5 separate regions of the Homo sapiens genome follow, and regions 2, 3, 4 and 5 are each linked to region 1. The links come from fine-mapping of genetic effects on gene expression. A gene starts in region 1. Each other region holds a variant in brackets. All regions are shown on one strand. Distances are from middle to middle. Region 1 holds the start of B3GAT1-DT (B3GAT1 divergent transcript). Region 2 overlaps B3GAT1-DT (B3GAT1 divergent transcript). Region 3 overlaps B3GAT1-DT (B3GAT1 divergent transcript). Region 4 overlaps B3GAT1-DT (B3GAT1 divergent transcript). Region 5 overlaps B3GAT1-DT (B3GAT1 divergent transcript).

What was found. PIP is the estimated chance that this variant, and not a neighbour inherited with it, causes the effect.
Region 2: its variant is fine-mapped to the expression of B3GAT1-DT in spinal cord (GTEx, PIP 0.91).
Region 3: its variant is fine-mapped to the expression of B3GAT1-DT in prefrontal cortex (BrainSeq, PIP 0.95).
Region 4: its variant is fine-mapped to the expression of B3GAT1-DT in cerebral cortex (GTEx, PIP 0.91).
Region 5: its variant is fine-mapped to the expression of B3GAT1-DT in hippocampus (GTEx, PIP 0.97).

Annotation. Positions count from the first base shown.
Region 1 is chr11:134,433,038-134,439,381 of GRCh38, forward strand. B3GAT1-DT (B3GAT1 divergent transcript) reads left to right here and starts at 3,445. Exons shown (of 6, transcript NR_033852.1): 1 at 3,445-3,747. RefSeq lists an enhancer at 6,005-6,344.
Region 2 is chr11:134,464,339-134,470,682 of GRCh38, forward strand. B3GAT1-DT (B3GAT1 divergent transcript) reads left to right here. Exons shown (of 6, transcript NR_033852.1): 2 at 2,002-3,277; 3 at 3,527-3,649. Among named protein-coding and RNA genes, the nearest start is that of B3GAT1-DT, 31 kb to the left of the region's middle. RefSeq lists enhancers at 1,660-2,225, 2,226-2,790. The variant T/G (reference allele first, on the strand shown) is at 3,334.
Region 3 is chr11:134,456,426-134,462,769 of GRCh38, forward strand. The region is part of intron 1 of B3GAT1-DT (B3GAT1 divergent transcript); the gene reads left to right. Among named protein-coding and RNA genes, the nearest start is that of B3GAT1-DT, 23 kb to the left of the region's middle. The variant A/G (reference allele first, on the strand shown) is at 2,744.
Region 4 is chr11:134,479,807-134,486,150 of GRCh38, forward strand. It overlaps B3GAT1-DT (B3GAT1 divergent transcript), which reads left to right. Exons shown (of 6, transcript NR_033852.1): 4 at 1,039-1,105; 5 at 2,821-2,924. Among named protein-coding and RNA genes, the nearest start is that of B3GAT1-DT, 46 kb to the left of the region's middle. The variant C/T (reference allele first, on the strand shown) is at 3,274.
Region 5 is chr11:134,444,210-134,450,553 of GRCh38, forward strand. All of the region lies in intron 1 of B3GAT1-DT (B3GAT1 divergent transcript), which reads left to right. Among named protein-coding and RNA genes, the nearest start is that of B3GAT1-DT, 11 kb to the left of the region's middle. The variant C/G (reference allele first, on the strand shown) is at 3,125.

The DNA.
Region 1 (6,344 bases):
TCACATAAGCAGGAAACCATGATCCTGTTGCTAAGGACTGTGATGGAAGTGACAGATTTAATCCAAGAATAAACTCCTAACTCTGTGGTCACAGTCCCAGGTGTCCTAAACTTTGGCTCTCGTTGACCTTGTCCTCTTCTGGAATATGCTCCCCTTTCCACAGGTTACTCCTTATGACCTCCCCTTCTTCGTGTAGTCTTTCCTGATCACCCCAATTCAAACAGGCGTTCTTCTCCAAATTTTCTGGCACTTACCAAGTGAAACACTCATTTGACATTTATCACATTTTGTCCTTTATGGCCAGTTATTTGTTACTGTGTTTGCATTGCCCTTGCCAATGTGATGATAATACTGTCCTCTTTCCATAGAACACTCTCTTCTCCCCTTTCCAGCTGTCCAACTCCTACTGAACACTCCCAGGCGCAGCTCAGTAGTCACGCCCTTCCCTGGGCACCCACAATGGCTTTTTGTGCATCATAATTTGAGTCAATTAATCAGAATGTATTCCCTATAAGGCTAGAAAATCTATCTGCCTTGTCTTAGCATCTCTGGAGATGTCTAGCTCAGTGTTGGGGTCAAATAGGTGAGGCCATCAAATATGGAGTCAATGAGTGAATAAGGAATGAATTGAGGGCATTTTGAGGATGTCTTTAACGTGTTATAGATTACAGGTTGGCCATGTTATGCTTTCTTTTCATATTGCATACAGAGTACTATGCACATAGCAGGTGCCTAATAAATATAAATTGCTTTATTAATTGTGATATATGTAATGATAACTTTGTTATTAACATTATTGTTCAATACTGCCATCCCTGCAAGTAATCTGTCACAAAGAAGCAGGGGCTTGGTCCATTTCCCTCTCACCCTTAGAGAGGAGAACTTCCTTCTGGGGCCATGTCTGTCCAGAGAAGACCCTTGTCTGCATCTGGGGGCAGGGCCCCTTACTTTTGTGCAGACTCGGTCCCCAGGCGGGCGCCTTCATGACACGCCTCACAGGAGGCATGACTCCCACCCAGGGCGTCACTCCGTGTGGCAGCCGCAGGTGGCAGGGGCAGACGCCTGAGTCTTCCTACAGTCTGTGCACCTGGATGGCACGTGTACCTGTGGCCCGTAGAGACATATTGGAGCAGCAGTCAAATACCTGAATAGTCCTAGAGGGTGGAGAGCCCATTACTAATGGAGAATGCCTATTTTCCCATCCGACTTACCTGCTAAGACAGGGGTCTGAGCTCAGGACCTAGTATCAACCTAGGTGGTTTCTGCCGACTCTTTATCAGGAAGCAACGGCTCCTACTTCCCTCCTCCTGCAGAGTGGCGTGGTCTGCACCCCACAGTACCTCCTCCAAGCATCTCAGCAAGGAGAGAAAAAAGGCACAACAAAACAAAACCCAAATATCCAGTTTAGCAGAGCCGCGCTGTCCAACTGGCTGTATATATCCTGACTATTTCGGTCCCTTGTCTTTTCCCCCTGAGTAAAGCTGTTCTTTTGATCCCAGCAACTCTGAGAGCAGCACGGCACTGAGATAACTTTTTATAAAAGTTGCTGGGGCATCATAGCCACAGAGAGGTCCAGCCTCTAAGACAGCGATCCTGCTGAGAGAACATCTCCCAGGCTTTCTCTTCCATCCTTGGTGCATGGGGCTTGGCTCTTGTGCCCGGTCAGAGGCAGTGTGTGAGGTGGGTACAGGTGCCCAGGGTTCCCAGGGTGGTCCCTGGGTGGGACCTGGCTGGTAGTCTCAGCCCTTTCTGCTCCTGGGAAGGGTTTGGGTCATGCCATTGTAATGTACAAAAAATCCTGTTGGTTGGGGGCGGGGGGCAGGCACCGTGGTTCACACCTGTAATCCCAGCACTTTGGGAGGCCGAGGTGGGTGTATCACCTGAGGTCAGGAGTTTGAAACCAGCCTGGCCAACATGGCAAAGCCCCATCTCTACTAAAAATACAAAAATTAGCCGGGCACGGTGGTGGGTGCCTGTAATCCCAGCTACTTGGGAGGCTGAGGCAGGAGAATCACTTGAACCCAGGAGGTGGAGGTTGCAGTGAGCCAAGATCGCACCATTGCACTCCAGCCCAGGTGACAGAGCGAGACTCTGTCTCAAAAACAACAACAATATCAACAACAACAACAACAAACAAAACAAAAAAACCCTGGGGATATATCTGGGGGCCACCAGAAAGGGGCTCAGGGTAAAGGGATGAGGAGATGGAGTGGGAGATTGCAGTGCCTGGGTGATGGGAGAGAGCAGGGGAGGGCGGGTCGGGGGAACCACTGCTGATTTCATAGGGAAGCAGCTGGGATGGGGCAGAGGAGCGAGAACTAGGATGTCCCATATACAATACAATTGCATATTGGACATACAACCCAGACAATTCCTTCTTCTATCAAATCCACCATCCTGGAGAGTAAAGCTGAAAAGCTGATGACATAAAGTCTGTCTGGGATCAGGCATGATTCTGCGTGCCCAAATGGAGCACAGATCCCTTCCTTCCCAGGGTTCCAGGCTGGCTCCTCAGCCAGGCTCATGGTGTAGGGAGCTGGTCTTTCTTGGCCCTCACTGGGACCTGGCTGTCCATGAGTGGGTGGAATTCTGAAGCCTACCTCTTCTGGATCCCTTTGGCTACATCCTTTATTCATGGGCCATGCCCTTCCTTCAAAGGCTTCAACCTCACACAGATCTGGGCTAGAACACGGGCTTGCCCCATATGTCTTGACAGCTCACCGAACCTTTCTGAGCTTTTATTCTCTTACCTATTTAATGAGAGTGGTGTGTGAGGGTCCACCAGGTAATCTGAGTGATGCCCCTCGCTGCCTCTGTCCCCTGGGGGTCATTCTGCCCAAAGGGGTGCATAGCGTCAGGACCACCAACTCCTCCCAGAGCACTGAGGTCCCTGCTGCCCAGTTAGTGGGTCCCAGGGAAGCCACGTGGCATTTGGAGTGGCATTCCAATCTTGCACTTTCAGGGCCCCCTCTGTGGTTCTGAGAGGAGGAAACAGCTCTAACCTTGGTGATCCCGACTGTGCTGGGCCCTGGGTTGTGAGGCAAATGGAGGGCAGAGGCCCTGGGGGAGGACACGTCCCTCACCACAGTCACTCCCCAGTGCAGCAGTCAGGGGATTTCCCAGGGTGCACTGGGCCAAGGGGCCAGACTCTGAAGTTCATGGGGTTAAGGTCTCCCCGCCAGCCAGGTGACGGCAGCCTCCTCGCCTTGCCCAGACAAGAAAGCCTCGATCTAATCTCACTCTGAACTTTTCCCAAGGCTTTTGCTACGCTTTGCTGTAGCTCCAAAGCCGCATTAGTGAGCACCACGCTCCTTTATAAATGGTCTGTGACCCCAGAGGTCTGCTCGCTGAGGGAGCTGTCTATTTCGGGCATTGTGGGTGGAGGGGGCATCTCAGAGGCTTCTGGAAAATTCCTGATGGGATTGTGTCTGTGTTCTGTCTCAAGCCTCCAATCAACAGATCAGACAGCTTGTACTCACAGGCCAAGGACACGTGGAAAGAGGCTCAATTTTCTAGATGGGTGGCAACAGCCATGATCTTCTGTCCTCTGGGTCCCCACAAGCCTGGATGAACTCAAGATCTGACTCAGTGGCACAGTGAGGAGACCTTTGAGGCCTCAGTGACCATCCTTGGACTTCACCTCTCACGGCTTTCAGGCAGAGAGGCCCTCCCATGCCCACAACAGGCTGAGCCCAGCCTTCCTCGGGGTTTGCTTCCAGGCCTGACTTTTACTCCCCTTTCTAAGTGGTAAGTAGCTTGGTGATGGTGGCTGAGAAAGAAACAGAGAAAAAACATACCTTACAGGCAGAACTGTCATAGTTCTCAAAAGACCAAAGTCACAAGGGCCTGTGGGTGCCTGCACGGCTGCCCAGAGGGAGGGTGACGCCAGCCACAGGCCCATTGCCTTTGTAGGCCAGGGTCCTGCAGTGCTGGCCCGCAACGCTTGATGGGAGGGGGCGGCTCTGTCTACGTGTGAAGAGCCCAGGGTGGCTGTAGCTTGCAGCGGATGGCATTCTCAGTTTGCCCGTTACTCCCCAGACAAATCTCCCTCTGGCCCCTTTTCCTTTCTGTCTTCAGTGGGGGTCGGGAGGCGGCAGCCCCAAAGACCTCTCCTTACCACCTTGTCTTTCCCATGGAGGTTCCCATGCAACACTTGTCCCTGTCCCTGAAATTTCAGACTTCTTTCCACAGCGCAAAGCCTCGGGCCTTGAGAAACTGCAGTGAGCAAGGGGAACCTCACCCCCAAGCTAAGGCAAGAATGCTGGCTCTTCCATCGCTCCTAAGTTCCAGGCTGACCTCTTCCTCCAACTCAACATATTCAAAATGAAACCCAGCGTCTTTAGCTCACCCTCCTTCCCCGCTGCCCCTGCCAGGGCCATGGCCACACTGACCCACACCCCCCGGTCACACCTCCAGGCCTGGCAGTAATATTGCCTGGACTCCTTGAGAACTGCAACCAGATTAATCGTCCCAGAGCTCCGCTTTGATAATATCACTTTTATAGACACATGAAAGGAAGCATTTAGGCAGTCAGTCATGCTAAATCTTAACCACCTTTACAGATTTTTTAGTGCAGCCCATCAAAATTGTCACCAGTCCTGAAGGTCCCACATTTATGGTGTCCATGATAACACCTCCCATGCCAGAGGCAGCAGCACTTGGAGGTGGTGCAGAGCTGGCACTGCAGGAGCTGTCCTCGCCAGGCCTGATCTCACAGCCAGGGCTGCTTCTCCTGGTTCCGCACAAAGCCCATGGTGACCTCCTGCACCTCCCACTCCAGAGGCATAACTGAGCAGTCTGTCTGGGCACCATCAGCACTCCTCTGCGAGGTGACAGATTACAGCTCTAAAGATGTTGGGCCGTTAGGCATTACCTTTCCAGTCGCTGGGTGCAAGGGGGCCTGGGAGTCCTTGGCAGGGGCTGGCATGGGCAGGCTGGTCGGGCTTCAGCAGCAGCTGTGGGCCAAACAGCATGGGAACAGTTGTACCAAGGCAGAGATTGGACTAGAGGGGAACAGGAACAGGACCAACAGTTTTGATTCGCGGGCGTTGCGTTCCAGGTGGTTGTTTTCTGTGAAAGCCCCATTGATGTCACAGTGACGTATAGTAATAATTAAAAAGACAGCACTTGTAAAGACATAGAGACAGTGATGAATAATCACAATTTGATGAGCTTTGTGGAGCTGGACTCCCTGAGTTCAAAACCTAGCTTCAACACTTACTGGCTGTGGGACCGCCCGACCTCATCTCCATTTCCCCGGGAAGCCTTCCCTGCCTGCCTTAGTGTGCTGTCAGCTTGGTGTCTTCTGGTCTCCCAGGACTGACCTGTTGGGTCGTGTACTTGGTGTTTTGTGTATGGCTTCTGTGGTTGCGTATACACTCACGTGCATAAGACGTGTTTTCCCAACTAGTTTGTCATCTCTGAGCGCACAGACTTGATTTAAATTTCTTCTTGACCCTGCAGTGCTCCCGGGAATGCTGTCTACTTGTTGCGATTTTACTCCCGTGGCCTGTGCTAGCTGCCTGCTTGGCCGTTGGGACTGAAGGGATGCTCATCCACTTGGCACACTGACTGCAAGCCTGGCACCGGCCTTGCCTTTGTTCTCCCATGAGTCCTCTTGAAGGCAACCCACTTGTGGTAGGAGGCGTAGAGTCCAGCAGGGCTCTTGCCCCTTTTGCCCTCCTGAATCATGGAGGAAGAGCTCGGTTCCTCGTCCATACAGTGGGAAAAACAAATGAGCAGTTACCTTGGGCAGAGTCCACAGTCCAGCCTGCTTGGCTGCCCGGGGGGAGGTGCCGACTGCAGAAGGCGTGGGCCCTTCCAGGTGTGGACTCGGCCCCTGGGCAGTGCGACCTGTGGCCTCCTTACCAATGAAGAGGAGTGGAAAAGATGCTCTCTCTGCTGCTCACGGCAGCCTCAGCCCACACAGGCTGCTGGCATTTCTGTGCTATTAAATAATTAACTTGGTACTACATGGAGTGAAACGCGCATTGGTCTGGTAAAAGGCCTCAATTAATTGCTTTCATGTTAGCTGTGTACTGTGTCTCCAGGAGGAGATAAGAGGTGGGAATGTGGGTTTTGAAGCCAAGCTGAGAGACACCCTCACAAAAGGTGACAAGTACCCCTCTTCCCATGTAGCTGGGTCTGTTCACTGACGCAGTGCAGAGGTGGCAGCCGTTGCCAGCTTTGGCTCTGGTTGTCTTTTGGGGAGTAGGGAGGGGGATGTGGGACCCAACTCCCTGTTGATGGATGGTGTATGACTGGCTGCCTCGAATGGGCCGACCCAGGCTGTGACAGGTGGTGGCAACATTGGGCTGCTTTTCTGCCACTGCTCTTGGAAAATG
Region 2 (6,344 bases), 31 kb after region 1:
TGGAGCGCCCGTGATCAGGATCCTGCAGTCTGGGACACTATCTCCCTGCCCTAATCATCTCAGGGCCAGGTGCCGGGCAGCTAGAGACTGCCCGTGTAACCAGAGCCTTCTGGAATCCCAAACTACCCAGGCCTGAGCCTGCCCAGCCCTCCCCCTGCCTCCCCATTCCTTTTCACCACTCCCAAGGATTTTGCCCAAGTTCTCCTCTCGTCCCCACCCCTGACTGACCTGGTGCTTCTCCACATGGCCCTGAGCGGGGTGGTATGGACTGCCCCTCCTCTTGGGAACTGTAACAAACTATCTTTTCAAAGACAAGCGTCTCCTGATCTGTTGGCCTTGTCGTGTCCAATTAAAATAAATCCTGGGTACATTTTAAAATCAGGGTCAGTCACCTCCAAGCTTTCAAAATTCCCAGATTATTCAGAAATATGAACAGCAGGCTCAAGTCACTGAGGATTTACATCCTCATTTTGCTAACAGATTTAAGACCACAGAGAACTTATTCTGTGAGCAGAGGGGCCACCTGGAGGGTGAATGGCATTTAAAACACACCATAATAAAGTCCTGGGATGGGATAGTCATGGCCTTAATGTTTCCTATGAGAGTTAAGAGGTCTGGATGAAGATGCTCTTCTGTGCTGCCTATTTGCAAGAGCGCTCATTTGTGGCCCCGAATGCAAGGTGAGAATCACCTCTGCCTGGGATGAGTTGGGAATGGAAGCGACACCCTCTAGATAATCATTTCTCACAGGCCTCTTGCTGAAGGTGCTCGGCCTCCCGATGCCCTTTCCTATCACAATGAGCACATACCTGGAGCTATGTCATGCATGGGCTGTGTGTACTCTTTCACGGAAAAGCTTCTCATCTTCCTTGCCAAAGGATGGTGTAAAAACTTTCAGGCCAGTTCACACCAGGGAGAGTCTATGCTGGACGCATTCATGCTGCTAGAACAATTCGACAACAGGAAATTGTCAGCTGATTTCTTAAGCTCCCGGGAGCTTACGAGGGGAGTCCAGGATCCCTCCTTCTGGATTCAAGCACTATACCAATTCACTTACAAAAGAGAAATGCTCTAGGAGAACAGGAGTTATGTACTGAAACATCACAGCAAACAAGGTAGTCAGCGCTTTCCCATGTCTGTGGGCTGGTCCTAGTGGCCCTTAGGAGGAGATGCTTGGTGGATTCCGTAAGTGCCCTGTGAAGCTCTCCTGTTTCCAGGCATGGCATGCTGGATCTGCTGGGGCAGGAGGGGTGGGTGGAGTGGAGACCATATGACACTGTATATGCCTATGCCTAACAATAGAACTTCTCTAGACCCTGATTTCCTGAATTTTGGGAGAAGCCATATTTCAATTACGTCTCAATGATAGGTGAAGTAGGGTGGTTGTAGGGAAAAACACATGTTGAGAATTGTCCCAGCAAAAAACAACCCCTGACCTGCCCTCCCAGTGTCAGGCCTGCATTCTCTCTGCTCCGTAACTGCCCACATGTATGGGGGGCTTACCAAGTGCTTAGTTCCACCCATGTGTCGCCTCTTCAGTCCTTACAGTGACTGTGTCAGGGTTATTATTACAGCTTATTAGCATGGAGCCTTACCCAGAGGTTGAAGAACTTATCTGAAGTAAGCGCAGTGAGAGTAGGGTATGGATTTGAGCCTGGTATGTGCCACACTGAAGCTCACACTCATAACCCAAACCACATTGCCCCAGTGGCCCCATATCCAGCCAAAATTCACCACGGGTTCCTTCTACACAGTGAGCGGGAGGGTCAAATTAAAAGATTTGTTACAGTTTGTTACAGTTCCCTTCTGGAAGCAATTCAGTTTCAAGCATGTTTTCCTCTCCGCAGAGGCAGCCATGACTGGCCACTTCATGTGCTCCTGGAGAAGGGCTTGCACCAGCCGTTTTCAGGAAAGTCAAGCAGCTGTTGACTCCTGAGTCTGGGTGAATTTGTGTGAAGAGCATAAGGCGCTGTTTCTTAACCAAAACGCTTCCTCTTGCAGTGCAGATGGGATGTGCTTCTCCACAGGAGGCCCCACGGCTTCCCCACCCCTCAGAGGAGCGCCGTGCGTGCGTCTGTGTGGAGGATTGGCAGCTCCTGCAGTCGGCCCTTGGTCCTATTTGGCGACGCCTCTGCCTTCCCCTTAATTATACAGTCATGAGCCGCCCTGGAATCACGGCAGCTCCGGATGGATCCTGGATGCCAGAATGCAGCCTCAGCACGGGGCTGCAGGACAGGAGTGAGCGAGGGGCTGCAGAGCCGGCGGCCGCGGTGGGCACCATGGAGGGGGCTGCCCTGGGCAGCACGGGCATGAGTCTCAAGGCCCAGGTTTGAGTAACAGGTGTTGAGAGCTTACTTACTTTTCCTGAGACACAGTTTCCTCATCTCGAGAGCACGGAAAATCATTCTAACTTCAGAGGATTGTTGTGAAAGTTAAATGAGATTAAAGAGGTAAAGCCCATGACGTGCTTAGCTCGTGCTTGGCTCTTGGTCAATGCCAGTTAGCGCTGCATTTTCTCCCCTCTCCCTCCCTCCTTCTCTCTTTCTTTTCTTCTATTCTCCATTCCTGTTTTCTCCCCCACCCCACTCCCCAAAGCTCTGCGTTGAGAACCAGATGCTGTCTGGTGGGTTAGGGCCAGAGGAGGAAAAGCTGCCCGCCGTGGGCTGCACCCATACCCTCTTCATTCCAATGACATGAGGGGAGGGGAAAGGACAGAGGTAGACTGTCCTCCCCTACCTCCTCCTAATACAAATGGAATTCCTGGAACTGGAAAACAAAGAATACCCCCATAAAAATAAGACAGTACTTCTGGTGCGGTGTAATAAAGGGGAAAGTAACCCTCAATGTCAGGAAACTCCGCACCTCCCAGCTCATATTTGTGTGGAGGAAAAGTTAAATATTAATTTGGACTCAACTGAATGTGGACACAAACAATGGTCACCAAGTCCCGGAACAGGTTGTGTGAGCCTCTTCAGGGGTTCATCCAGCGCTGTTTTGGAGAAATCTCTATTTCAATTTATTCCTATACGTTAGTTACTGAAAAACAACAGACAATCGCAAAAGCAAGTTGCCCGTTTTGTGTTCCTTGAGCCCAATCATGAAGTGCCGTCGTGACTGGGCCTCATGACAAACAACTTGTAACAAGTAACAACAGAGCTCAGGTCCCAGACCGCACTGAAGCTCTGTGAGACCTCTCCTCATCTGTGCATGAACGAGTGTCTGACTCTGGAGCCCAGCCTGCTGCTTCCCAGTCTGGTGGTGAATCCTCCGTAGTCTGGTGAGTGTAAATATATATATGTCTTTTCCCTTCTCCCCTTCCCATTGCAATTTGCT[T/G]ATATCATTTGCGTATTATATCTGCATTACCATTTATGTGAGATAAAGCTTGTTCACCCTTAAGGGTATTGTGTGTGTGTCTTTTCTTCTCTCCTAGTGCATTTTCCTCACAGAACAATTTGAAACCAGAGGTCCTTACTGCTGCTGGCTTACTCTTTCCAAATATTAATTTCCTTTTTTCTTTTTTCTTGAGATGGAGGTTTGCTCTTGTTGCCCAGGCTGGAGTGCAATGGCACAATCTCGGCTCACTGCAGCCCCTGCCTCCCAGGCTCAAGCAATTCTTACGCCTCAGCCTCCTGAGTAGATGGAACTACAGGTGAGCACCACCATGCCTGGCTAATATTTCGTATGTTTATTTTTTAGAGACGGAGCCTCACTATGTTGGTCAGGCTGGTCTCAAACTCCTGACCTCAAGCCATTTGCCTGCTTTGGCCTCCCAAAGTGCTGAGATTACAGGCATGAGCCACTGTGCCCTGCCTTCAAGCAATAATTTTCTATTATGAATAAAATTGATGAGCTTCGCCAGTTTCTGGTGCCCATAAAGTTGTTGCTTTTCATTACCAAGGTTAACAGCCTGCTGGTGATGCGGCCTCTGGCAGAGAGCCTACAGGGAGTGGGACTGGGCAGATGCTGCTCGCTGGGGCAGAGGGGAGGTGAGGAGGAGGTGCTCACAGCTGACCTGCATGCCTCTGCCTGGCCCTGGGACCCCAAACTCCTGCTCCTTTCTCCTCGCATTCTGCCAAGCTCCCCCTGTGTTTGACCTCCGGCTTGAAACTTCCTTCTCTGATGACTCCTGAGCAGGCAGTGTGAGCCCCAGCAGTATCCTCCTAGCACCTGAGCACAGAGTCTGTGCCTGAGCAGAGTGTGACAAAGGAGGCGACCGGGTGATGCAGCACAGTGCAGCGGGCTTGGGGCCGGGAAGGTTTTCTGAAAGGTGTGATAGTTAAGCGTCTAGGCTGGGAACTGCAGGATGAGTAGGAGTTAGTCCAGTGAGATGGAGTGGGGGTGAGGAGGAAACCTTCATGCAGGGGGTGTGCAGCTGCACACGCCTTGTTCTGAGCCCAGGAAGAGCACGGTGTTGAGGTGCTGAGCACTGGGGGACAAGCTGGAGGGGGCACAGGGGCATCTGTGACCTTCTCCGGGCCTTGGGACAGATTGCTGCAGAACTAGGGCCTCCTCCATGTCTCTTTTGCGTCTTTTCTCACAGGACATCCCTCTAGGCAGGGGATTGGCAAACCAGGCCCTGCTGGCCAAAGCCAGCCTGTTGCCTTTTTGGTAAATAAAGTTTTGTTGGAATACAGCCATGTTCTTTCATTTACACATTGCCCATGGCTGCTTTTATGCTGTGATGGCAACATTGAACACCTGCAACAGAACCCGTATGGCCTGCAAAGCAAGAATGTTTACTATAAGGCTCTTTACAGAAAAAGCAGGTTGATCCTGCTCTAACCTCTGCCTGCTGCTTGCAGCAAACCTTCCTCATCTGGGCCTCAAATATTTCTGTCCTTTATTCTGGTGCTTTGAGTCTATCTGTAGCTCAGGGTAAGGTGTTGAGAATTAGTAAGATTACAAACTGCAAAAGCAAAGGTTTGGCTGTTAGAATACTTATGTTTCGATCTTGGCTTGACCTAGTCATTAGTGATTATATAATAATAATAATGCTACTAGTAATAGTAGTAAATGCAGGAATAGTTTCTATTTATCCAGCAATTATTATGTGACAAGTTTGGAGCTGGACTTTTAAAATATATTATGTCATTTAAATTCTCACAAAGAAGTCTTGGATATAGTTTTTTTTTTATCCCCATTTTGCAGATGCTAAAATTGACACCAAAAGCGTAGGTGATGAGCTTGAATCAGGTAAGAATTATATTCTACTTCCAGCTAAAGAAGAGGATATAGAAGATCAATAGCTTAAACAAAACAGAAGGTTTGTTTCTCACCCTTCCTGTAATAGAAATCTGGCAATGAGCAAACATGGTAGTATTTATATTCTGAGTTCTTGTCACATTATTTTCATTTTCAGGTCTTCTCATGGACTAAAACAGTGACAGTGAGTGCAACTCTACCTATCATGTTCATATTCTAGGTAGAAACTGGGGAAAAGAGAAAAGGCGGGAAAAAGGCGTTTCTCTACAAAGATCACACATAATCTTCTGTCTGCATCTCATTGGTCGGCATTTAGTCACATGGCCATAACTACCAGCAAGGGAAGCTGGGAAATGTAGTTTTTCAATGGCACATTGCTACCCTTAATAAAATAAGGATATGCTACCAACAAAGAATGAATATGGGAAAGGCCCCTAGCAATGTCTGCTGCATCTGCCACTGTGGTTTTCTCTGATTTCCACAGACATTGCTCTTCCACATAGAGCGCATTCTGATTCCCAAGCCACCACTCCCAAATCACACCCAGTTTCTGCATCTAGCTTGTGTGTGGGCAGTCTGCTCCATCAGTCCCAGATGTGGCTTCTCATGGCTGGTGACCTATGAACTAAAAGACAGGCCATTTTTTTCCCAACCTACCCTACCTTTTCTCCTTGAGAGGAAAGATAAAATAACCACAATTTAAAAATGTCAATCTTCCATTCAGAAAAGGGAGGAAAGAGAAACACAGAGATCACTGGTTTACAGTGATGGACCCACCCTGCTAGGCAGGAGTGAAAAGGCCTCTCCGTCCGGCAGTGGACTGGGTTCCTTGGCTGGCCCATGTGGTCCCCACCCACTGTCTCCAGGAGCATCGCCTTGAACTGTGTCTTCATGGCTTTTGGCTCCGCCTTCAGAAGGGTCCTCCCTGTCAATCATCCTCCATTGCCACCTCTGATGTGGGCACTAGGGAGCTGGTCCTTCCCAGAGGATGCATGATTTTGACACCGTGCAGTGTGGGATGTTGGACCAGGGAATCCAGCATATTTTCGGGCTTTTGTAGTCTCAGACTGGGCCTGAGATTTCTTTAGAAATATATTAACGGTTCCTTCAACACTCCAATGGGCATATAGCCTATTTACTTC
Region 3 (6,344 bases), 23 kb after region 1:
GCCATGATTTCTTCTGTTTTTGCCGCTTGATTAAACTTAGTTTCTCATTTTTACCTATATTGACTTATATTGCTGGAAGTAAAACAGAATCTCAGGAATCAGTGTGATGCGTTTGACAGATGCTGTTCTGCTGCTGAGTGATAGTCCCACGAGGGCTGTGAACTTTCCCCCTTCCAACCCCCCTCTCCTACCACCATGCGGTCTCCAGGCTCAGGAAGGGGTTCTGTGGTCTTTATCAGAAATGGAGGTACTGCAAGGTCTGGTTTTCTAGCCTGATGCTCCATTAACTACCAAGAGTGAAGAAACAGCCTCATCCTGTCGCTTAAGTCCATCTTCTCCCATGGGATTTCTTCCACTTTTGAGGAGCTCAAGCTCTGTGGGCCATGCGAGCTCTCCTCCTTTGTGAGCATACATGTTCCCTCATTTGTCAATATCCACTTAGAAAGGCGAGAGGGGTCTTTGTCTTTAGAAGACAATGCTGGCAGGTGGGAGGAGTGGGGGTTCAGAGGCCCTTCTGTTAGTGCGTGTGGGAAGGGGCAACCTTCTTTGCAGTGTGAGAGGTTTGTATTCTTGTCTGTTACAAATCTTCTCTCCCACCGTGATCATAAATGTAGCCTGTGCATAGCCTTCCCTTCTGTTTCTCTTCTACCCATCTCTAGTTGGTCTATTTTCAAGGTATTCCAGGACATGAAAAGGCCTCAGTGAGTGGTAATGTCTAGGAGTGCAATGCGACCTAAGGGACAGAAAAATCACTTAAGGGATAACCTGCTTGGAAAACAAAATAAAGCTAAACAAAAAACCAAAACCACTGCTTCACTGTGACTCAAACCTTGGCTTTAAATGGCTATCTTTCCTCCTAAGACCTTTCATAAGTGTGCTGTCATACCACCCTTGCATAAGGTCTCTGTCTCTGTGCTGTCACACCACCCTTGCCTAAGGCCTCTGTCTCTGTGCTGTCACACCATTCTTGCCTAAGGCCTCTGTCTCTGTGCTATCACACCATCCTTGCCTAAGGCCTCTGTCTCTGTGCTGTATCACACCATCCTTGCCTAAGGCCTCTGTCTCTGTGCTATCACACCATCCTTGCCTAAGGCCTCTTTCTCTGTGCTATCACACCATCCTTGCCTAAGGACTCTGTCTCTGTGCTGTCACACCATCCTTGCCTAAGGCCTCTGCCTCTGTGCTATCACACCATCCTTGCCTAAGGCCTCTGTCTCTGTGCTGTGACACCATCGTTGCCTAAGGCCTCTGTCTCTGTGCTATCACACCATCCTTGCCTAAGGCCTCTGTCTCTGTGCTGTATCACACCATCCTTGCCTAAGGCCTCTTTCTCTGTGCTATCACACCATCCTTGCCTAAGGACTCTGTCTCTGTGCTGTCACACCATCCTTGCCTAAGGCCTCTGTCTCTGTGCTATCACACCATCCTTGCCTAAGGCCTCTGTCTCTGTGCTGTGACACCATCGTTGCCTAAGGCCTCTGTCTCTGTGCTATCACACCATCCTTGCCTAAGGCCTCTGTGTCTGTGCTGTCACACCACCCTTGTCTAAGGCCTCTGTCTCTGAGCTGTCACACCACCCTTGCCTAAGGCCTCTGTCTCTGAGCTGTCACACCACCCTTGCCTAAGGCCTCTGTCTCTGTGCTGTCACACCACCCTTGCCTAAGGCCTCTGTCTCTGTGCTGTCACACCATCCTTGCCTAAGGCCTCTGTTTCTGTCCTGTCACACCGTCCTTGCTTAAGGCTTCTGTCACTGTGGTGTCACAGTATTTTTGCTGCCGGAAAACACAGATAGGGAGAGAACTTGTAAAGATAACTTCAATAATAGTACACACTTTGGCTGGGTGCAATGGCTCACGCCTGTAAACCCAGCACTTTGGGAGGCTGAGTCGAGTGGATCACGAAATCAGGGGTTTGAGACCAGCCTGGCCAATATGGTGAAAGCTCATCTCTATTAAAAATGCAAAAATTAGCTGGGAGTGGTGGCACGTGCCTGTAGTCCCAGCTGCTCGGGAGGCTGAGGCAGGACAATCACTTGAACCTGGGAGGTGGAGGTTGTAGTGAGCCGAGATCACACCACTGTACTCCAGCCTGGGAGACAGAGTGAGACTCCGTCTCCAAATTAAAAAAGAAAAAATAGTACACTCTTGGATAATTATTTTCAGATTGCAAAACACTATTATTCATTATATAATAAGTGTTCCTCACATCAACCCATTCATTGTAATTCTCTTTTTACAGACCTGGATTTGGTAAGTTATGTTGATTTATTCATTTAGGTATGTGTTCATTCATCTATCCAAAATACATTCCCTGAGTCTATAATATGTGCATATTATTGAGCTGACGTATATCAAGGATGCCCTCTAAGAGCATGTAAACTTGTGGTATTAATATTAATAATGTAATAATTAGTAATATTATATGAATAATATTTCATATTAACATAATAATATGAAAATGTAAAACTAAAAATAGTATAGCATAAGAAGTGTTGAGGTGGAATTTGCTGTGGGATTGCACAAAAAGGGGAATGAAATCAGGTGGGAACTGTGAGAAATGTTTATAGGGTGTAGGACTGTAGGACTGGGTTTGGGACCTAGGGTTGTTCAAGGGTGGGCTGATGAGGCTAAAATGTTCTGTGGGAACTGTGAGGGAGCAGGTTTTGAGGTGCCAGGCTCGGCATGTGTCATACTGGCTTGGAGGATGCTTGAGGGGAAGCCAGGGCCTGACCCCTTGGGGCAGC[A/G]TGGGAGAAGTAGGAAGTGAGGATGGCCTGGTGAGCTGGCAGCCCCTAGTCAGCTGGTGCTGGGTGAACATGGAAGCACAGAGTGTGTGCTTCTTTCCTCTGACCACAGCTACCTTGTTCTTGGAAAGGTCCTGTTTTATAAGCAGGGACATGGAGGCATGGGGAAGTCGCGCAGCTCCCACCATTGCCCTGGGCTTGGCAGCAGTGAGACATGGCCAGCAGCCACCCTGCACTCTGGCCTGAATGCCCAGCTTGTGCAGATGTGCAGCGGTAGTGCAGGGTCAGTGCCCTCTCATGGCCCCCTCGCAGGAGGCTGCTTGCTGAGTGGTGCCAGCTCAGCCAAGTGTTCTCTGCATCTTTGCTCAGGCTCTTCTTTCTCAGAGGGCTGGAGGAGGTGGATGATGCAGAGAGCTTCCCTGTGGCTCCCGGCCCTCCTCAGGGCCTGCCCGGGCAGGGAGGTGACAGCAGTCCCTGACAGATCCCACCCTTCTCCCACACAAAGCGGGCCAGGGGTGAGGAAAGGGGTCCCTCCAGCCCTTACCTCTGAGTACTTGCCCTGCAGAGCTGCTGCTGTTATCTGTCAAGGCTGATTTCTCTGAGGTGACAGCTTTGACTTCAGATCTCCTTCTTTAATTGAGTCTTTGTCACTCCATTGATGGTAATTTACACATCCAATAACTATTGCTAATGTGGGATGGAGGTGTAGGGATGTTGGCTGGGGCGAGGGAGCTGCTGAGGCTGAGACCTGATGGGAGGAGCCTTGGAGGCTGGGCTGCTGCAGGCTGTGCTGCCCCAGGCTCAGGCTAGGGTGCTGCACGGTTCTGTCTCTCATTTGCCAAACATTTTCTGAGCTCAAACTCAGTGTAAGGAGGGCGAGGATATAAGAATGAATGATAGAAGGTCCTTGTTTTCGAGGACTTTCCAGTCTCATGAGAGAAAGAGACATACACAAATAGCTAGATTGGAGACTGCATAGGTGGTCAGTCACAGGCGCGTCTGCACGCTGGGTTCTGGGAGCCGAACAGCCACCTGCAATTCAACTATATTCAATTTAATTGAACCATCTGTTTTGGGCACCTATTTCTGGGTGAGCCCAGTGGAGTGATGGGCTGGGGGTGGGGAGGAACAAAGGCACAAAGACTGATGCTGCTTTCCTCCCTGCTCTCTCTTGCTCTCTGTCTCCCCACCCCCGGCTCATTCTCATCACTCTCTCTCCGTCTTCCCTCCTGCTCTCTATCTGTGGCATGCACTCTACTCTCAGCTCTGTGCTTGTCTCTGGGGCCAGAATGGTGAGCTGAGACATTGTCTGTCCTTGTGGAACTTACTGAAGTGTGTGGGAGACACAACCATTCATCAAATAAGCACCCGTAAATGTAATGGGGAGCTGTGCTCAGGAGGGACTCAGGGAGCTCTGAGCATGACCCACGGGACCCAGGCTCATCTGTGGGCCTCAGGGAGCTGGGCATGCACCACAGAACTGTGGAGCAACTGAAGACCTATTATTTCTTATTGCAGATATAAATATTATATTTATACATTGGTATATATATACTTTATATATATTTGTATAAATTAAGTTGTAACCTACAGAATAGGCCTTCTGGCAATGAGAATGTATCTGCTCAAAAAGCTGAACAGCCATGGAAAATGGAAATTCACTCTCTGAGATTTTACATATTCAAAGGAGTCCGGAAAAATACTGAACAAAAACATGAATGAATATTTGTATAATCTTTGGTGGCTAAGGCCTTCCAGAAGCACGAAGGAAGATAGATCATTCTGATCACATAAAATTGTAAAGCTTTAGAAAACCACAAACAAAGATGGAAGACCACTGAGAACCTGGAAGCCTTCTGCCTCACACATGGCATGCTGGTGGTGATGCCAGGCTGGTGAGGGCTGCACAGTTTGTCTTCGAGTTAGAACATGACAGCCCACCCACACCAGCTGGCAGACAGCTGCCTGTCTGAGTCTCCCAAGGCTGTGGACCCTGCCACTGACTTCCCTGGGACCAGCTCTACCTTTTCCCACATTCAGGAATTTATAGATTAATGTCTGCTGTGGTTTGAGTGTGTCCCCCAAGGTTCATGTGTCGGAAACTTAATCCTCAATGCACACTTTTGAGGGATGGGATCTTTAAGAGGTAATTAGGTCATGAGGGCTCAGTCTTCATGAATGGATTAATGCCATCATCTTGGGAGTGGGTTAGTTATCCTGGGAGTCAGTTACTATCTCAGGAGTGGGTTAGTTATCCTGGGAGTGAGTTACTTGTCTCAGGAGTGAGTTAACTATTCTGGAAGTGAGTGAGTTATCCTGGGAGTGAGTTACTATCTCAGGAGTGGGTTAGTTATCTTGGGAGTGAGTTACTTACTTCAGGAGTGGGTTAGTTATCCTGGGAGTGAGTTACTTGTCTCAGGAGTGAGTTAGTTATCCTGGGAGTGAGTTACTCACCTCTGGAGTGGGTTAGTTATCCTGGGAGTGAGTTTACTTATCTCAGGAGTAGGTTAGTTATCCTGGGAGTGAGTTACTCATGTTGAGAGTGGGTTACTTATTGTGGGAGTCAGTTACTCACCTTGGAATTGGGTTAGTTATGATGGGAGTCAGTTACTTATCTTGGGAGTGGGTTAGTTATTGTGGGAGTGAGTTACTCATCTTGGGAATGGGTTAGTTATCACGGGAGTCAGTTACTTATCTTGGGAGTGAGTTAGTTACTGTGGGAGTTAGTTACTCACCTTGGGAGTGAGTGAGTTATTGTGGGAGTCAGTTACTTATCTTGAGAGTGAGTTAGTTATTGTGGGAGTCAGTTACTCATCTTGGGAGTGGGTTAGTTATCATGGGATTGGGCTCCTGAGGAAAGGATGAGTTCAGTCCCCCTTCTCTGTCTCTTGCTCTCTTGCACTCTCTTGTCCTTCCACCTTCCACCATGGGATGACACAGCAAGAGGGTGCTTGCCAGATGAGGTCCTCTCGACCTTGGACTTCCCATCCCCCAGCACTGTAAGAAATGAATCTCTGTTCTTTATCAATGACCTAGACTGTGGTATTCCATTGCAGCAGCACAATACAGACTCAGACAGTGACTTCAGGATGCTGCTCCAGTGCTGCAGCTGATTTCCATCCTAATGGGTTGATGTCCATGCCACATAATTGTCAAAACACCTTGACTTTCACCCTATCCTTAACATAGTATTATTGAATACTTACTATGTGCCAGGCACAGGCTTATGGATGTTGGACTCGCTAACACATATAATGCTCACAACTCTAAGAAGGAGATATCATTACCATAATTACTATCCAAGATTACAAATGAACAAACAGAGACATGGAGAGCTCAACTCTTGCCTGGGCTTATGCAGATTTAAAAACATGACAGGAGGTTGAACCTGGACAGTCTGACTTTGAGCTCATGCTCAACCACTGAACATCACTTCTTCTTCCAAATCAGTAAGAAAAGAACAAGAACAACCCAAAAGAGAAAAATGGGTGAAGGGTTTGAACAGGTAATTTGCACACACAAACATACAAAAGAGATACAAATGTATAATTAGGCTATGCAAAGATACTCATCCTCACTAGAAATTAAAAAAATGCAAATACCA
Region 4 (6,344 bases), 47 kb after region 1:
GAGTTGCCTTATTGGGGTTGGCTTGCTAGTCGGGATGTTTCGCTCCCATCAACATCCATACGCTTGCTCTGTGAACCAATGACCTGATGAGGTAGTATTAGCACCACCATCATTATGCTGAGGATGAGATTTATGGCACAGTGGTTCAGTAGCTTGCCCAAGGCCATGCGGCTGGTAGGTTCTGGAGGAGGGCTCAGGGCACCCCCTGAGCTACCCCTGCTGGCCATTGCACCACCCCATAAAGCTGCTGGCAGTCACTTCTCTGAGGGGTTAGCATGTAAGAAATGTCCTCCTGAATGCTGGCCAGACAAATGGAAATCTGCCAGGGTTGGGTACCCCCATGACAGCAGCCAGCCTGCCCTCTTAGTCCCTGACAGCTGCAGTGACAGCATCTGTGATTGCAAAGCGTGACAATTTATATCTCTCATTTCATCACACCATCTATCAGCAGACAGTCAGGCTTTAAAAATCAATCCCACACTGACTCAGTCCCCAGCAGAGATGGCCTCTGACAACAGTATCCACACTGCAGGCTGGACAAGGGCCCTATTAATTTTGAGACTCAGCCAAATTTCCTTCTGACCCTAAGCTGGTGAATCCCTGCTCCTTTGCTTTGGTTGGGGTTGGTGTGAGCTAAGGCTGTGATCCCATTTGCTCCTATGGCCTCCAGGTGGCCTGGGCCTCCATGAATGGGCCACATGGTCATACTGAATGCTTGATTACACTCAGACCTAGCAGTCGTCTGGGCGCAGCTGGTTTATGGATCACTTTGTCACAATGTTCCATCCTTCCAGGTCCCCATCCCCGCGGTGGGAAAACATTGCTTTAGGCAGTGCTAGAGGACTTCAGCAGGCATTGGCAGCTTCTGGATTCAGGATTAGAACAAAGAAGGAGGAGTCACAGCAAAGATAGGAACAGAAGGCAGAGAGAACAGACAGATGGGGGTGTTTGAGAAGGAGGGCCTTTGAGACCTCAGGGAGTGGGAGACACTGGCTCGAGAATAATAATAATGGCAATTTCTCTCATCTGTGTTTTCAGGGCATGGACTGGAACTCCCAATACCCCTGACATGGGCTGAGTCAACGTGGTCATGAACATGTGACAGGTAGCAATGACAATGGCTATCTCTTCTTGAGTCCTTATTTTGTGCCATCACTTCATTAATTACATAGATGATCTCATTTGATCCTCATAACAACCCTGTGAAGTACATACTATTACTGCTTCCATTTTATGGATGAGTAACTGAGACCCAGTGGAATTAAGTTAGTTTTGCAAGGTCATATAACTGGTAGACATCAGAGCCTGGGATGGAACACAGATCTTCCCTTTCCAAGTTTAATGGGCTCCCAGCTAGCCTAGAGAGATGGTCCTGTTCCTGAGCCCTTAGGATAAATTTGCCTCTCACATCCAGAAGTTGGAAGAAATGCCAGAGAGTTGCACCTTTCATTAGGAGGCAGAGAGAAGAGTCCGTGACCGGGATTTGCTTGTGCAGTTGTTTATTAACTACCTGGGCATTTTGCTGATGGTGCAATTTGCAGAGCTGTTAATGGTAATGAAACTCCTGTGACTGTCAGGAGACACAGGGGAAGCCAAGGAGAAGTGAGAGGTGGCTGCCAGGTCCCTGAGCTGCCCTTTGCAGGGATTAATGAGGTCTGTGTCTTCTCCTGCTTTAGACAACTCCCGAAAATGTCAGGTGCCCCCTAGACTGTCCTGTGAGCCTGTCAGCCTCCCTTCCTGCCACACCAGTCATTGGAGGAGAAACTGCCATGATGTTATGCCTTTGCCGTTCCCTCCACACTTGAATTTGGGGCTCTGAGGGCTGTTCAGGCACACGTTGTATAGTTCCAGAGCCAACTTTGAGTCCAATCGCTGGACCTCCAAAATCATGCTTATTTAATGGCCTGTGTTGCTTTGTACAATAAGGGTTGAGAATCAATCAAATCCATAATGAGGGGAAGCTAGATTCTAGGCATTCAATGTCCATTCAGGTCCTTACAAGCTATGTATGGCTGTGGAGAAGAGGGAAATAGGAGAGTGCATGCACCAGCGGAGAGCCTGAGCTGAGCTCCCATCAAGCAGCCTCAAGCCTGGGCTCCTAGGGTGTGGGTTCTGAACGGTGGTTAAGCTCAGAGCCCTGGGGCCCTGCCTCTTCAGGGTTAAAGGAGCTGGAAGAGGCCACAGCAAAAGCTCGCAAAGTTGTCCTCCACTCTCAGCCCAAGGGTGTAGGTCTGCATCATTCCTTCCACTGTCACTGAGCACTTTTCGTGGGTCAGCCACTCCTCCAGTCTGGGGAAAAAGCACTGTTTAAGATGCAGGGCTGGAGTCCAGGAACTCCGTCTGGTGGCAGAGGTAGACAGGCAGCCAAGTTCATTTAAGGAGGAACAGTGGTGGCCACTGCTGGGAGGGAGTACCCAGGGAGGAGAAAGAAGTACCCAGGGAGGAGAGAGAAGTCCCCAGGGAGGAGAGAGATGAGAGGCAATGATTCCACCTGCGGGGGTCTGCAGAGCCCTCAGAGGGTTGCCACTGGGTGGGTGGGGGGCACTGAGGATTCCCCCAAGCAGAGAGATGGGGAAGAGGTGGTGGAGGGTGAGGGAAAGAAGGTGGGTTTCACAGCCTCAGAGTGGGCACAAACCTTGATTCTGAAAGATACTTGCTGTGAGACCTGGGCATGCTCATGAATGGGCCCCAACTTCAATTTCATCAGCAAAAGAAGGGTGAGGCCCATTTTTTGTGATTGCAGTCAGCATGTAATGTGGATGAGGCATCGATCCATGTGAGCACATTTCTCTGAATGCTGGTTTCTTCTCTACATTCCAGGAGGCAGCAGAAGTTGCAGAGAAGAGTGAGGCACGTTTGAAAAAGGCTGAAAAATGTTTCTGTCCAGGCAAGGGTGTGTGCTGAATGACTCAAGGATTTTTTGGGTATGTCATTTCCCATTTCTCACCCTCAAATAGGACTCCGCTTCCCATCTAAGCATTTGTATAAATATTGATTATTGGTTAGTGTGTATCAGAGAGCTATTGAGTAAAAATTATATCAGAAAAATTAAGAATCTCTAGAGATGGCAAGGTGTGAAACAAAAAACGCCAGGAAGGTAAATGCTCAAAGTTCACCACACACCACAGTGAGAAGTGTTGGGGGCCCAGGTCTCTGAGGCTGCCCAGAGGGGCTCAAGGTTTGTAGTGAATACAGGAATCAGCTGGAAGCTGTAGGCCATGTGACCCTTGGACCCCCATTCCAGGAGTAGTTGAACACGTCTGGGCAGGACCC[C/T]AGAATCTGCATTCCCAAGGGAGTGCCTGGTGATTCTAATACAGCAGGGCCTGATCCACCCTGAATCCATTGCCCATCTCCATCAAAGCTTCCTTTCACCAGTCAAGCCCCTGGCTGGGGAAAGGTCTGGAAACAGAAGTGGAGAATAAAGTTCTGGGAAGAGTTCTATCCCCATGGCCATCCTGCCAATAGGAAGCCTGCCAATGTCGTGGTCTCAGGGGTGTTGGGTGTGGCCCAGCTGGAGAAGCATCCCTGGGGGTGGTCAGGAGGCTTCTGGCTTCTGGGCCCTTCTGCAGCCAATGCCTAAGGCAGCGAGGCCAGCCATTCCTAGAGAGCCAACTCTCAGGCGGGGATCAGCTCCCACACACAGTGGGACTCGAGGGGCACTGGAGAGCTCCTCTTTCCAGAGTATCTCCCCCTCCGGCCGGAAGTTCTGTCTAACCGATACGGGTTATCCAGAGTATCTCCCCCTCCGGCCTGAAGTTCTGTCTAACCGATACGGGTTATCCAGAGTATCTCCCCTTCCGGCCGGAAGTTCTGTCTAACCGATACGGGTTAAAATCCTGAAGGCCCCCTGCCAGTGTGCAGGCATGATGTCCCAAAGGGGCAACATCTTAGACCAGCTGCACTCAGAGAGCTGCTCTAAGTAGAAGTGAGCCGGGCTCCGGAGCTGTGGACCAGGACACAGAGGGAATGACATATTCAGATTCAGTCTGAATCAAGAAGAAAAGTGTCCAGATGGGCATGAGTTATTTTAACCTGATGCATTTAACCCACTATTTATTTGGCTCTGAAATTGGTTCTGTGGAAAGACAGTTTCTGCTCCTACCCGGAGCACCCAATTAGTCACAATACTGGGAGACTCAAATCCATGTCAATAGGAACGTTGTATAGAGGGTGGTTGAAGATGAGGGCCTGGCATCTGGGTGAAGTATTGATGGATGTGCAGAATTCTAATGGCAGAAGTGAGGTATGTGTGCATGGGCGGGTGCGTGTGTGTGAGTAAGGTGAGGGTGTGTCTCCAGAGGAGGCAGTGGCCTAATAAAGTTCAGTTGAACTGAATGAAGGATCCTTACAGGAGGCAGTTAGGCTTGGGGCTTGAGGAACTCCTGAATGCCAGATTCAGAAGTCTGTACTTCTAGGGGAGCAGCTGGGGTTTCTGACCCAGAGACTGACATGTGCTTTGAAAAGCTGATCTGGTGGCGTAAGATTGGAGAGGGCCTGATGATGGCAGCACAGAGAACAGTCATGAGGCTCTTACAGCTGTCTAGCGTGGTGAAAGCTTGCCCCGGCAAGTGGCCTTTGGAGAAGAAATACTCTCAGGTAGTACTCACTAAGTGCCTGCCATATGCAGAGAGTTCACACTGGTAACTCTAATCGTAGCAATCAGCCAGTCGGGTGAAGGCGATTCCCACCGTTCATTCTTCCAACTCAATATGCATTGAGCGCTTCTTTGATCCACTTGTGGGATAGACACGGCCTTCACTCTCAGAGAGCCGACCTTCTCATATCTTTTGCATGGCTCTTTTCAGAGAGGAGAAAACTGAGAGAGAAAACCAGCAACTTACTCAAGGCTCACCAGCTAGTAACTGATGGGGTGTGGATTCAAACGTGTGCCTTGCTGGCTGCAAATGGCCTAAAAACACTCCCTGATATTTCCTGATCATTTCCTGGACAAGGTGATATGTGGATTATTATTTATGTGCTATCATTTGATCATCCTAACAACTTTAATGACGGAGGTATTAATTATAACCCATTTTTAGATGATGAAAGTGAGATGCAGAAAGGTGAAGCTGTCCAAGTCACAGTGAGTGGAAGAGCCAAAATTAGATATTTGTGTCCAGGCACGGAGGCTCATGCCTGTAATCCCAGCACTTTGAGAGGCCAAGGTGGGTGGATCACCTGAGGTCAGGAGTTTGAGACCAGCCTGGCCAACATGGTGAAATCCCATCTCTACTAAAACAAACAAACAAACAAACAAAAATTAGCCTGGCATGGCAGTGCACACCTGTAATCCCAGCTACTTGGGAGGCTGAGGCTGAGAATCACTTGAACTAGGGAGGCGGTGGTTGCAGTAAGCAGAGATTGAGCCACTGCCCTCCAGCCTGGGTGACAGACTGAGACTCCATCTCAAAGAAAAAAAATAGTTAGATCTTTGTTTCCAGGCCATCTGATATCAGAGCCTTACTCTTAAGCATTGCACTATCCAAAGATCCTCTCTCCCTCCCTCCCTTCCTTCTTCCCCAAAGAATTCAATATGGTTTTGGCAACCGTGTGCAGTGTGTGTGTGTAGGTGGTGGTGGGGAGGATAAAAAGAGAAGAGTCGAAGGTGGTGCTGGGTTCTCAACCCCGTGCCCCTGGCAGATAGGGAACCGGGAAGCAGAGCAGGCCTGGGTGGAGGTTTGGGGAAGGGGAGCCAGGAGGGAACCCTAGTGTGTGGCCTTGGGGATCCAGGGGCAGCAGAAGGATGTGGGTCCTCTGGAGGAAGAGAGACCGAATGGAGAGGAACCCTGAGTGGAAGACTGTTTTCATCTGTGGCCTGTATTCAGACAGCTGCAGACTGAGGTCCTGATAGGAGAAGGCATTGTCCAAGAACACACTGCTGGACAAGCTGGGGGTGTTGCTCTGACAATGAGAAGAATTCTGGATCGGGAAACAGGACTAGCTCAGGTGTGGGAGAGGGGCAGCTGCACGTCCCCACATGCGGGCTCCCTGTGCACAGGCAATGTGGCATATCTGAAGGTGCAGCCCCTGCCTTCAAGCCTCCATCATCTTCTCCCCAGGACAGGGATGACTGTAACTTTCTAGGCACCACCATCCAACTCATGTGCTGTGACCGTCTGTATGACATCTCTCTGTATGTATGTCTGTCTTCCCAGAGAGAATTGGAGTGTCTCACCAGAGGAGACCACGTCTGAAGGGCTTTGCATCCCTCCTTGGACATGTCTAATACCTAACACTCAGAAAGCATCCAGTAAATATTCGTGGAAAGAAAGGAGTGGAGAAGGGGAGAAAGGGGAAAGGGAGTAGGCGAGAGAGAAGAAAGACTCTGCTTCTTGCCCAGGGCC
Region 5 (6,344 bases), 11 kb after region 1:
TTCATGCTGCTGATAAAGACATACCTGAGACTGGGCAATTTACAAAAGAAAGAGGTTTATTGGACTTACAGTTCCACGTGGCTGGAGAAGCCTCACAATCATGGCAGAAGGTAAAAGGCACTTCTTACATGGCAGCGGCAAGAGAGAGAATGAGAGCCAAGGGTAACGGGTTTCCCCTTATCAAACCACCAGATCTTGCGGGACTTATTCACTACCATGAGAGCAGCATGGGGGAAACCTCCCCTATGACAAACCACCAGATCTCGCGAGACTTACTCACTACCACGAGAGCAGCATGGGGGAAACCTCCCCTATGACAAACCACCAGATCTCGCGAGACTTACTCACTACCACGAGAGCAGCATGGGGGAAACCTCCCCTATGACAAACCACCAGATCTCGTGAGACTTACTCACTACCACCAGAGCAGCATGGGGGAAACCTCCCCCATGGCAAACCACCAGATCTCGCGAGACTTACTCACTACCATGAGCGCAGCATGGGGGAAACCTCCCCTATGACAAACCACCAGATCTCATGAGACTTACTCACTACCACCAGAGCAGCATGGGGGAAACCTCCCCTATGACAAACCACCAGATCTCGTGAGACTTACTCACTACCACGAGAGCAGCATGGGGGAAACCTCCTCTATGATAAACCACCAGATCTGGTGAGACTTACTCACTACCATGAAAGCAGCATGGGGGAAACCTCCCCTGTGATTCAGTCATCTCCCCCTGGGTCCCTCCCACAACACATGGGAATGATGGGAGTACAATTCAAGATGAGATTTGGGTGGGGACACAGAGCCAAACCCTATCAGAGGCTTAGGACTTTGAGCCCCTGTGAAGGGAAGCCGGCCTGGAGACTCATCTTGGTAAAAACATTTTTTTTTCCTTTTTGAGACATAGTTCATTCTTGTTGCCCAGGCTGGAGTGCAGTGACCTGGTCTAGGCTCACTGCAACCTCTGCCTTCCAGGTTCAAGCCATTATCCTGCCTCAGCCTCCTGAGTACCTGGGATTACAGGTGCCTGCCACCATGCCTGGAAATTTTTTTTGTATTTTTAGTAGAGACAAGGTTTCACTATGTTGGCCAGGTTGGGCTTGAACTCCTGACCTCAGGTGATTTGCCCACCTCGGCCTCCTGATTACAGGCGTGAGCCTTGGTGCCTGGCCTCATCTCGGTAAAAACTTGAGCAACACCATTAGATGAGCTCGCAGGCTGCTGAGCTCCCAGGCTGCTGACCATGTGCAGGTGCTGGAGAGGGGCACCCAGAGAGGGTGCAGCAATGTGCGTCCTCCACAACCCCCACACCTTGTGCACCTCTGCATCTGGCTGCTGTTCTGTAGCCTTTGTAATTGTGAACCAATATTCAGTCTGTATAATCAACTGGCAAACCTAAATAAAATGTTTCTCCGAGTCTGTGAGCCGTCCTAGCAAATGATCAGATCCATCGGGGGGTTGTGGGGTCCCTGATTTATAGTGAGTTTGTCAGACACACAGGCCCTAGTCTGACACTTGCAAGTGGCATCTGAAGCAGGGCAACCCCGTGTGACTTAGCCGGAAACCTGTGGGATCTGATGCTATCTCCGGATGACAGTGTCGGGATTGAATTATTGAACACCCAGCTGGTGCCCACTGCAGAATTGCTTGGCATGCAGGGAAAACCGCAAACACATCTGGTCACAGAAGCATTCTATGTTGAGTGTGGGAGAGTTCGTTTTTCCCTTTTCACAAAGTGACTTGCCCAAGAACCATTTCAGTAGCCCAATCTTGTCGCCTACTCTGGAACTCACTGGGTGAGACAGGGCCAGCAGTTGGGAGAGAAAGGGCTGGTGGTGGTGGTGGGTGGGAGGACACCCAGGTACACATTCAGTGAGCTAGGTTCAGAGAGACAAAAGCGGCTGCACTTGCAGAAGGTGAGAAGGCGAGCTGAGCCTTTGACAGGTGTCGGCAGGTAAAACCATGGTATCAACAGCTGTGCTTTGAGCTGCACGAGTGAAGGTGGAGGAGAGGGTGGCATCCCAGCATCGTGCAGTCCACCTGGGTCTCCAGAAGAGGTCCAGATGGGATCAGAGACGATGCTGCCAAACACAGGGCTTGAGAGGGTGTTCGGTAAATATCAAAGAAACATTCTACATAGTCTTCTTAGTGAGGAAGAACTGGAGCTGGCACCACAACCATACAGTGTCTTTATAGTCACTGCATGTCGCCTTGTGGGAGAAACTATGTATTTCCCCTTACAGAATGTGGCCTCAGGCATTCTCCAGAAACCCTTTTGCTATCTCCCTAAAGTCCTGAGTTCAACAGCCCCTCTAGTTATTATGATCCATAGACCCCTGGGCTCCAATCCCTACTGGATAATGAGTCAGGGTAAAAATACTGAGAATTTTTTTTTTTTTTTGAGATGGGGTCTTGCTCTGTTGCCTAAGCTGGAGTGCAGTGGTATGATCTCGGCTCACTGCAACCTCCGCCTCCCGGGTTCAAGCGATTCTCCTGCCTCAGCCTCCCAAGTAGCTGGAATTACAGGCGTGCACCACCATGCCCAGCTAATTTTTGCATTTTTAGTAGAGACAGGGTTTTGCCATGTTGGCCAGGCTGGTCTCGAACTCCTGACCTCGTGATCTGCCCGCCTTGGCCTCCCAAAGTGCTAGGATTACAGGCCTGATCCATCGGACCCAGCCAAATACTCAGAATTTTAAAGTAAAACTGTAATTTGTAAGGACTGCATTTGAAGAAGGGAGAAGTATCCTCTCCAGTCAGACTCTGAGGACCAACACATACCCACTTCTGAACGCATGACGATTACAGGCTTTTGCTCATACAGAAGTTCAGTTTGAGACCCCTGCAGGCGTTCCCTGCAGTCAGCTGTCGTGAGAGGCCTTGTGACACTTGGGCTGGAGAGGAGATGACCTGTGATACTCATCAGGTGAAAGGGAGATACAATATTTGTCTAGTAACATCTTTGAGGCCGATAATGATTTCATAGTGTTTATCCAGGGGAACAAAACATTCATACCCTTGTTGTTAGTTGGGACTTTGACTTTCTTTCACCTGTTTCTTTTTACTATTTTTTTTTTTTGAGACGGAGTTTCGCTCATTGTTACCCAGGCTGGAGTG[C/G]AATGGTGTGATCTCGGCTCACCACAACCTCCACCTCCTGGGTTCAAGTGATTCTCCAGCCTTAGCCTCCCAATCGGCTGGGATTACAGGCGTGCACCACCACGCCCAGCTAATTTTGTATTTTTAGTAGAGACCAGGCTGGTCTCAAACTCCCGACCTCAGGAGGTCCGCCTGCCTCAGCCTCCCAGAGTGCTGGGATTAGAGGCGTGCGCCACTGCACCCAGCCTAGAGACTTTGACTTTCTCTCTCTCCTACTGGTGTGAAGCCGTGCCTCATTCAGGGAGGTATGTGTGCCAGTTTCCTCTTCAAAGGATTCCTACACCCAGAAGAGGAGAAGCAGAAGCAGTCTTCAGGTTCTCTGCGTGCGAGCTGACGCAGCTTACTTTGGGCCAGGTGCACTGGATGCGCCCTCGCTCCCTCCGTGGGGCCCTGGCTGGTGTCGGAGCCCTAGCGCAGCCATCTCACAGGTAGAAACGCCCGCGCGGGGCGCTCACTGCCTCGGACTCGGCCCTTCCGCTGCGAGGCCCTGCTGTCTCGGGTTCCCCCATCAGTTTTGGGTAGGATTATCAGAACCCTTCCCAGGAGCGCGCTTGGAGCGCTGTGGACACTATCCTCTCCTAGCACAGGTGGCGCGGTGGCTTGGGCCACTTGCTGGCTTCATTCCCTGGCTGGTGTACACCAGGGCAAGCCGCTTCACCCCTCTGCTCCTTCTCATCGCACCTGCGAGCTGGGCACGATGGCAGCACACCCTCGATATGTTTGCTGTGTGGGTTAAATGTGGTCACGTGTGTGGGGCTTTAGGCCAGTGGCCACCACATGGCAAGACCTCAGTCATCACTTGGTATAAATGTGTCTCCTTAGTGTGGTATAGTCATTTCCTTCCCGAATTTTAGTACCTTTGCAATAAGAACATGCCACCACTCCTCACAGTGGCTTTATCTAGGTGTTGGCCATGAAGAGTGCCCATTGCTGGCACTTGAGTAAACATCAGAGGCTCCAGCCCCAAAACTTGCAGAATGGGTGTCAGTGGCCTAGAAAACCACCCAGAGGACAATACAGGTGGATTTTCTAGGCCCTAGCAATCAGACAGCTGTGGGTGATAGTGAGTTAGGCATGCTTAGTAATATTCCCAAAGCAAGAGTCAAAAGTAGGCTAGCTCTACATAATTGCAAAACCCACTTAAGTGCTCCCAGTGGCTTCTAGTTCTCATATTGTTTCCTATAAAACACGGCACCAGCCAGACTTGTGATGCAGAGACAACATTGAGTGGAAAGATCTGAACATCACCAGCTCTGAATGCAAAAGTGGTACAGCAGACTTTGATTCTGAATGTGAACTTTTAAGAATATCTTACCTTACTTTACAGATATTTTTTCCTTTTACCTATGTAGAAGAGTATATATAAGAAAAAGTTGGCTCACGCCTGTAATACCAGCACTTTGGGAGGCCAAGGCGAGCGGATCACAAGGTCAGGAGATCGAGACCATCCTGGCTAACATGGTGAAACCCCCATCTCTACTAAAAATGCAAAAAATTAGCGAGGCATGGTGGTGGGCACCTATAGTCCCAGCTACTTGGGAGGCTGAGGCAGGAGAATGGCGTGAACCCAGGAGGCGGAGGTTGCAGTGAGCCGAGATCACGCCACTGCACTCCAGCCTGGGCGACAGAGCAAGAGTCCGTCTCAAAAAAAAGAAAAAGAAAGAGCATTACCCAAATAAGCCCAAACAACTCTTTGAATAAATATAAAATAAAAATTGTCATAAGAATGCCTCATGTCCTACTTTAATTGGCAATCTCTTTTAAAATAAGTAGCATGTAAAACAATGCAATACATTTGGGAGTGTCTTACAAAAAGAATTCAGGCTGATATGCTAATGTTTCTTTGGGAGTTTATTGTGTCAGCTTGGCTGGGCTATGGTGCATGCTGTTTGGTCAAACACTGGTCTGGATATTGCAGTTGGATATTGTAGTTGTGATTAACATTTACAATCAGTGGACTGTAAAGAAATAAAACAGATTACCTTCCATAATGTGGGGTGGGGGACCTTATCCAGTCAGTTGAAGGCCTTAGGAACAAAACCTAGGGTTTCTTGAAGAAGGAGGGATTCAACGCTTACCTAAATTTCCAGCCTGCTGGCCTGCCCTATGGATCTCAGACTTACAACCCCCTGTAATTGCTTGAGCCAATTCCTTAAAATAGTTCTGTTTCTTCGGAAACCCCTAATATAATCTTTTTAAATAGGTTGGTTAGAATTGAGCAGTGTGACCCATGTAAAACAAAGTTATATTTAGAGATAACTTGCTTTTCTTTATGCAGACTATCTTTTGCACCAGCTTTCTAGGTGGCTGGTTGCTGCCTACCTAGTGACTCTCACTGTCAACTCAACCTTTTCCCTGTGCTCATGTGACTGGCTTTTGCAGCCCCATGTGCAGGACCTTATATCCACCCCAAGCAATTTCCTTTTCACAAAATTTGATCAATTACTTTGGGCATCCTTCACTACTCAGGGGGACATCCTCTGGCGCCACCTTCCTGTCTGTGGCAACGGTGGTACCTGGAAGGACCCAGGTATGTGCCCCTGCAGGTTCAGGTGAGGTGGTGCCACTGACATCATCACTACCAGGCATGGAGCAGTCACCTCGGGTCCTTGCAGTGCAGCCCAGGGTCTCCGGAGTCAGTGGCTCTGGGCTCGGCCGCACATGGGCAGCGATGAATGAGCAGTATTAGTGGTTCTTCCAGCACAACCCATCATCCCTCAACAATGCATTTCTGGAAATTAATTAGAAGCCACACAGTGGAATAACGAACACCATGTTTAGAATTACAGTCTATCGCTAAACGACAGCTCAGACAGCCCATGGCTGCCCATAACCCTGGATGTCTTGAGTGTCTGCCCCCAGTGCCTGTTGAACCCTCTTTAGTGACTAACCTGCAGAGCGGGTCTGGATGGCTTAATCGCTTCTGAGGCTGGGATGCTACCTGGGCAGGGGCAGGAGCTAAAGGAAGGAGGAAGTGGACTCAGCACCTGGAGAAGGGAAACTGCTGGTGCCTACGGCAGCAAACCAGTGTCTTTCCCTGGTATCCAACGCTCCGACAGGAAGCCTTCTGCCGCGTTCTTGTTTGGGGGCAAACCAGGTTCCCTGTGTTTACTCACACAATGGGACACCCTCAGGGCCTCTCTGTACCCTGAGGGGGCTTCTGGGGAGCCTCCAAGATTAG